Linked DNA regions of Homo sapiens. The protein of the gene in region 2 interacts with the protein of the main gene of each other region in a biochemical or structural test. Each region holds a gene or a part of one and is shown on either strand. Other genes may lie near its edges.

What was found. Proteins that work in one complex are often made in the same cells at the same time.
Region 1: the proteins of PPARG (region 2) and ZNHIT3 form a complex in vitro, tested with the Homo sapiens proteins (one study listed by BioGRID).

Annotation. Positions count from the first base shown.
Region 1 is NC_000017.11:36,485,126-36,488,875, reverse strand, and holds the start of ZNHIT3 (zinc finger HIT domain-containing protein 3), read right to left. Parts: upstream 2,196-3,750; 5' UTR 2,177-2,195; coding exon 2,091-2,176; intron 1,942-2,090; coding exon 1,910-1,941; intron 1-1,909.
Region 2 is NC_000003.12:12,414,460-12,418,109, reverse strand, and holds part of PPARG (peroxisome proliferator-activated receptor gamma), read right to left. Parts: intron 1,407-3,650; coding exon 956-1,406; intron 1-955. UniProt on the Homo sapiens protein: Nuclear receptor that binds peroxisome proliferators such as hypolipidemic drugs and fatty acids.

The DNA of each region.
Region 1 (3,750 bases), on a different chromosome or scaffold from region 2:
TTGGCAGCAATTTATACTTTCAAATAGCTACAAGAGAGGATTGCGAGTGTTCCCAACATGAAGAAATGATTATTTGGGGCGAATATGCTAATTACCCTAATTTGATCCTTAAACATTGTATACAGGTATCGAAGTATCACACTGTAACTCAAATTGTATGCAATTATGTGTCAATTAAAAACAAATATTAAAAAGAAAAATCAACCAATAGGAGGCTTTATATAAATAATGGTCGTACCAACTATATAATGAAATAACATACAGTCCTTTAAGTCAGTGAGCTAGAACTTGTATGCACTAGTCTTTATTTTTAATTTTTTTAATTTTTTTTTAGATGGAGTCTCACTCTGTTGCCCAGGCTGGAGTGCAGTGGTGCAGTCTTGGCTCACTGCAACCTGCGTCTCCATGGTTCAAGCAATTATCCTGCCTCAGCCTCCTAAGTAGCTGGGATTACAGGCGCGCACCTCCACACCCAGCTTATTTTTGTATTTTTAGTAGAGATGTGGTTTCATAATGTTGGCCAGGCTGGTCTCGAACTCCTGACCTCAGGTGATCCACCCACCTTGGCATCCCAAAGTGCTGGGATTACAGGCATGAGCCACTGCGCCCAGCCTGTATGCACTAGGTTTTAAAAAGTGCCCAATATATAAACTCAAATGAGGATGTTGGGTACAGTCTCATTGCTGAGATTCTAAAAGCTAAAAAAAAAAGTTCTATATATTGGTACAAGAGTGGAAATAAGCTGAAAGAATCTACATCAAGCTTTTTTTTTTTTTTTTTTTGAGACAGTCTTGCTGTCTCCCAGGCTGGAGTGCAGTGGTACGATCCTGGCTCACTGCAACCTCCTCCTCCCAGGCTCAAGCGATCTTCCCACCTCTGCTTCCTGAGTAGCTGGGACCACTGGCACAGGCCACCACGCCTGGCTTTGTTTGTTTATAGAGACGGGGTTTCGCTATGTTGCCCAGGCTGGTCTCAAACTCCTGAGCTCAAATGATCCGCCCGCCTCGGCCTCCCAAAGTGCTGGGATTACAGGCGTGACCCACCGCGCCCCACCTACATCAAACTTTTTTTTTTCTTTTTTTTTCCAGACTGAGTCTGGCTCTGTAGCCCAGGCTGGAGTGCAGTGGTGCGATTTCGGCTCACTACAACCTCCGCCTCCCGGGTTCAAGCGATTCTCCTGCCTCAGCCTCCTGAGTAGCTGGGATTACAGGCGCGCACCTCGCCCGCCTAATTTTTGTATTTTTAGTAGAGACGGAGTTTCACCATGTTGGCCAGGCTGGTCTCGAACTCCTGGGCTCAGGTGATCCACCCGCCTTGGCCTCTCAAAGTGCCGGGACCACAGGCGTGAGCCACCGCGCCCGGCCAGGTCACTTCTTTTTAACTGTACAAAAGTGTGTTCACATCATACACAGAACTTACTTGGTTCTTTTTTTCTCTTAACAAATCAAGGACGTCTCCTTGTATTGTACATGGACTTACCTCTTTGTTTCTAACAAGACATTATTTACACGAGTGAAAATACTGTTAAAGTTAGCGCAGTTTCAGCCAAATGGTGAGGGGCTACATCAGAATACTGAGGAAGAAACTGCTAGGGTAGACCTCGGTGGGAAAAGCAATCGGAAACTATTTCTAAGCAAAAAAGAGTAACACGCAGAAGGAGAAGCGGGGTAGAAGAAAGGCTACTGACCAAAACCCTGAGAGCGATTACAGGCAGGGACAACAGAGGGAACTGTCCGACACACAGAGACACCAGGGACCAAGTCAGAGGAAGCAAGGTTCCTGCAGAACCCGCGGAGACCCGAGGCGGGAAAGGAAGCGCAGCCCAAGGGTCCACGCCCCCAAGACGGAGGCTGGACGTGGGGGCTGCCCCGTGCGCAGTGGTACGAGGGCTGGCGGGGACGGGGCTCACCTTTGTGCTTCCGGAAGCAGACTACCGAGCAGCTGTAACAACAGAGGCCACAGGCCGCGTCAGCCCCGAGGGTCCCCGGCCCCTCCAGCAGCCCGCCCGCTCCCGCCCGGCCTCCCGGCCTCCCGCCCTCCCGCCATGGCCGGACACCCGCGCCCCTGGACCCCGCGACCTCCCCGCTCACTAGGGCACGCGGCAGGCTGGACAGCGGTATTTGGGCTTCTCCAAGCAGATCACGCAGACGACGGTGCTACATTTGAGCGACGCCATGGTTTTGTGGAAGGAGACTGTTCACTGCGCCGCCGCGCGCCTCTCACGCAGCCGCGCCCGCGTGCACGCCCCTTTTTCCGTTTCCTAAACGGGGACCAATCAGCGCTCAGCAGGTAGGCAAAAGCAATGGACTGATCCTGCTCACTGTTCCAGCCCTCGTACTTAGAGCGTCGATACACTCGATGCGCATCTATTAGCTGCGTCCCAGGTTTTCCTTGATTAGATCACAGCGTCGAAGAACTTGTTATGTAGCCCAGTCCCTGTCCCTATGCGGCCGTGTGGCTTGGAGCAAGCCATCGACACTGTCCAGGTGTGTTGCCCCGCATGTAAAAAAGAAAACAATACATGGAACTAAACGTCCTTTACTTTCTGGCTGGGACTTCCTGAATCTTGCAGGGACATTGGGGTTCATCCGCCCATCTCATCTGCTTATTCTTGGCAAAGGACAAGTCCAGACATTGGGCGAACCAGAATCGGTTGGATCACGCAGTAGACAGGAACCTGCCCTTCCCAACCTAGACCATTTTTCACTGGGGAAAGAAAGATGAGCCTGAACAGTGGCAAATGTTTGAGCTCCAACTGTGAGCCCTTCCGGGCTGGGGACCCCCCGGGGTCTTCTAATGAAGAAGTCGTCTCTGTCCCCTGGGAACTAAATGCTTAGAGTGAAAGTAGGACGGGGAAACGGGGAGGAAAGAGACTCACTCTTAGAGTCCTGCCGTCGCTACCCTGCACCTGCACGCCCCTGAGACTGAGTGCTTCTTAAATTTTGCACTCTAGGCTCCTCACACCTCCCCCTAGTCCCGGAAGCTAATTGACCAGGAAGCAGGCCAGTGACCACTAGTCCCAAGACGGGGATCCCAGGCAGATGAGTCTGGATAGATGGGCTATGATGGGACTTGAATGCCACCACAAACTTTAGGTTTAGAAAAAGTAATGTTTTTTGTTGTTTGTTTTTTAAGGAAATTTGCTTGCAGCTAGGCATGGCCCAGCCTTACCTTAGCTCCCATCCTACCTGCACTGGGCCCTCCCAGGGCCATAAATCACCCTTACTCCCAAGTGCCTCCTCTTCTGTGTTGGCCGTTCAGCCTTCAGGGTCCCTCTTCAATAAAGGTGTCTGCAGGGATGTATCTGCAACAACCGAGGCAGTGGTTTGAACCTTGGCTCAACCCCCTCCCTGGCTGTGTGACCTGGAGGGGTTGGTTACCCCCTCTGAGCTCCCTCATCTATTAAAGTGGATGTTTGGGCCTACTTTCCTGAGCTGTTGTAAAGCAGAGAGGAGACCATGTGCAAAAGTTTTGTAATCAGAAGTGCTACCTGATATCTAGAAAGAGTCTTAACTCTCATGGATCTCCGTCTGGACCGCATGAACATAGGTCCCAGGCCCCAAGCCATGCTCTCCAAAACAGTTCTGCCGCCTGCTTCTTGAGTGGGAGGTGAGTAATTATCCTTCCTTTGGGCGTGGCGACCCAGTCCAGTCCTCAGTGCTGAAGCTGCTGGGCCCTCTGGCCACCTGCCTGTCCTGCTTGCAGCTGCCCCAGCCTCCAACTTCTGCCCAGGACCCAGCTTAGAATCCA
Region 2 (3,650 bases):
CTGTTGTCCTGTCTACTTGGGAGGCTGAGGTGGGAGAATCACTTGAGCCCAACTGTAAAATGGCCACGTATTACTTTTATGAAGTAGCATGATCATAGCTTACTAACTGCAGTTAGAAGCTGCAGTGAGCTATGACTGTGCAACTGCACTTCAGTCTGGGTGACAGAGTGAGGCCCTGTCTCACAAAAAAAAAAAAAAAAAAAAAAAGGAAAAAAAAAAAAGAAAAAAAAAAGAAAAAAGTCACACTCAGAAGAAAATCTGGCTTTTGGAATTGGTTAGTCAGATCATGTACTACTTGCAGGGCCAAAAATACAACAAATTGCTAAATAACTAAATTTATTTCTATGTTGTGTGTTCGGTTCACATTGCATTCTTAATCACAACCAACTACCTCACAAAGGTACTTTAAGGGAAGCCATCAGAGGAATCCACACAAGAGAGTGGGTGGAGGTCAGTAGGTATTCCTTAATTCCTGATATCACAAAAGCAATTCAAAGTAGTATCTTACTGATGGTGGGGCAGGAGCATGATTTGACCAGAAATACTTAGTGGTCCCTTCTCTACATCAAGTGAGCATTGTCTTAAGCAAAGTTATACATGCCATTACTTACAGGAACCAAAGATTAGACTGGCCTCTAATCTTCCTTTCTGGAAGGAAAAGAAAGAGACAAAGAAAAGAAAAGAAAAAGAAAAAGGAGAAGAGGGCATTTGACTGGAAAAAATATATTGTTGAGGGATGAAAGAGAAGATCCTGGGTTACTTATAACCTTCACACCGCAAACCTATGACACTCTTTCTTGGTACAGTGTTTTGCACGTGTAGTGATGATTCATGGCATCATGCCACTGGCACTTAAAGTGACAATGCAGACTAACACTAAGGAAATCCAAAATTCTTTTGGCCACCCCACCATCATCCCACCCTCTTTCATAGAAGATCAAAAGACAAATCTTACCTCCACTGAGAATAATGACAGCAATAAATATTGCCAAGTCGCTGTCATCTAATTCCAGTGCATTGAACTTCACAGCAAACTCAAACTTGGGCTCCATAAAGTCACCAAAAGGCTTTCGCAGGCTCTTTAGAAACTCCCTTGTCATGAAGCCTTGGCCCTCGGATATGAGAACCCCATCTTTATTCATCAAGGAGGCCAGCATTGTGTAAATGATCTCGTGGACTCCATATTTGAGGAGAGTTACTTGGTCGTTCAAGTCAAGATTTACAAAACCAGGAATGCTTTTGGCATACTCTGTGATCTCCTGCACAGCCTCCACGGAGCGAAACTGGCAGCCCTGAAAGATGCGGATGGCCACCTCTTTGCTCTGCTCCTGCAGGGGGGTGATGTGTTTGAACTTGATTTTATCTTCTCCCATCATTAAGGAATTCATGTCATAGATAACGAATGGCTGCAAATAAAACAGGGAAAACGTGGATGACTTGGAGATTTCTAACTCACAGTGAATGCCATCCCAGGTTCAGAAAACTGTTTATGTAAACTTGCTTTGCTAACTAAAATCTTTAAAGCTGAAGATGCTTAATAATGAGAAAATACTCTCAAGTTCTTTTATTCATCTTAATTATCTTCTGGGACCAAACATATTTCACCAATTTTGGTCTTCTTTCCCTTCAATTTACACTGTAACACTTTACCTATGACTGGCTAAGAATCCTGATTTCTTTTGTTTGGGGAGTCTTCATTGTTGATTTTTATATTATTTGTTTGTTTGTTTTTGAGACAGAGTCTCACTCTGCGCCCAGACTGAATTACAGTGGCACAATCAGGGCTCACTGCAACCTCCACCTCCCAGGTTCAAGCAATTCTTGTGCCTCAGCCTCCTGGGTAGCTGGGATTACTGGCATGCACTGCCACACCCAGCTGATTTTTGTATTTTTAGTAGAGATGGGGTTTCACCATGTTGGCCAGGCTGGTCTTGAACTCCTGGCCTCAAGTGATCTGCCTGCCTTGGCCTCCCAAAGGGCTGGGATTACAGGCATGAGCCACCACACCCGGCCGATTGTTGATTTTTAAAATGATACAAAATCTACTGTTTATCTTGGCTTTCAATGAAATACACTTTTAACCTTCTTTCAATAAAAAACCATTTCAGCAACTCAGCGTTGAAAATACCCACTTGAACATAAAGTAACTACAGGTTTAAAAAAATTTTTTTTTCTTAAAATTTCTTTTTCCTTTTCCTTTGTTCTCCTTCACAGGTAATAACTTTTCCGTTTTAGATGAAATCCTCTCAGATCTCAAATGAAACTATGTGCACATAAAATATGCTTAACTATGAAAAATCACTCGGAAAGCAGATTACAGCTCTTGAACCAAGAAAATGTCTATTTCTTTTTTTAATGCTCTGGAAGCCATCTATTTCACAAAGAGCAGATATAGAAGGCCTACAGGTGAATGCTGCAAAAAAGCAATTTTGAATTTATATTTTAAAATATCTGTCCTTATAGGTCAAACAATCAATAAAATACATGCCCCAATTATTCAAGTTTGCAATAGGCTGCCTTCAAAAGTTAAGTCATTTGGTCATGACATTCTCTCTCTTTTACTTCCCTTGTATAGAACTAAGCAAGGTTTGTAGTCATTGAGAAATTCTCAAGGCTGTTCTGACTAAGGGGTAACATTTTACTTACACTGGATACACTGAATGACACATAAGGAGTTAAACCTTGAATCCTGTTCAAATACTTGTATACCTGAAAGCACTGGAAGAAGAGCTGAGGGTATGTGTGTTCCAGCTTTGGTTCTGTGGTGAGCCATGTGACTTAAGAAAAGTCATTTACCTTTCCTAGGCCTTAAATTTCTCAATCAGGGGTTTCCATCTCTTCTCCGGAGGAAATTCTAGTTGCATTTCTCAGAAGCAGGATGTGTGTGGGGAGTGGGCATATGTGTGGAGAGGTGTGAGTGTGCATGCACGACAAACATGAAGTCTCTGATGGACTAAAAGTAAAGATTGTTTTGAGCAGAGATGCTGACAATTCTCTCCTGAAAGGAGAGAAGGTGCATGAGTGGCCGTGGCAGCCGGCTTCAAGATGCACTGGTTGGAGATTCTATTCATATCTATGGAACTCTATGATTTTCATCAAAAGATTAAGTTTGTTCTAAACTGGAGGAAATAACACCAACATTGAGGAGTCTCAGATATTAAATATATTTCCAAACTTGTACGTCACATCAACACCCTTTACTGGAGTTATTCTGGAAGTTTTTACTTTTGTTACCAAAAAATTCACTTCAACTGTACTACTTAGCAAACTCCAAAAGAGGACAGATGTGAGGACCCCCAAACAGGTTTACTTGGTGGCTCTAATTTTTAAGGAAATTGGGACCAAACTGTCCTTACCGTATTTCTTAAACATTTTGCTTGGGTGGTTTCTTTCCTTTTTCTTTTTTTCTTTTCAGGATTAATATTATTAATGGGAGGAATACAAGGGGGGCAGAGCAAGTAACATCGATGAAAATTTACTGTATTTTTCCAGAACGTCAGGTTCTAATTATGAGAAAAATGTGAATGGATAATGATGCTTTCACAGAACCTAGAGAAAACGTGTTTCTTGTCCTCCAGGCATTTTACAGTGTATTATAATTTATATTAATGAAATATTTACTTTCTTTTTCTAAAAAAAAATTATTTCAT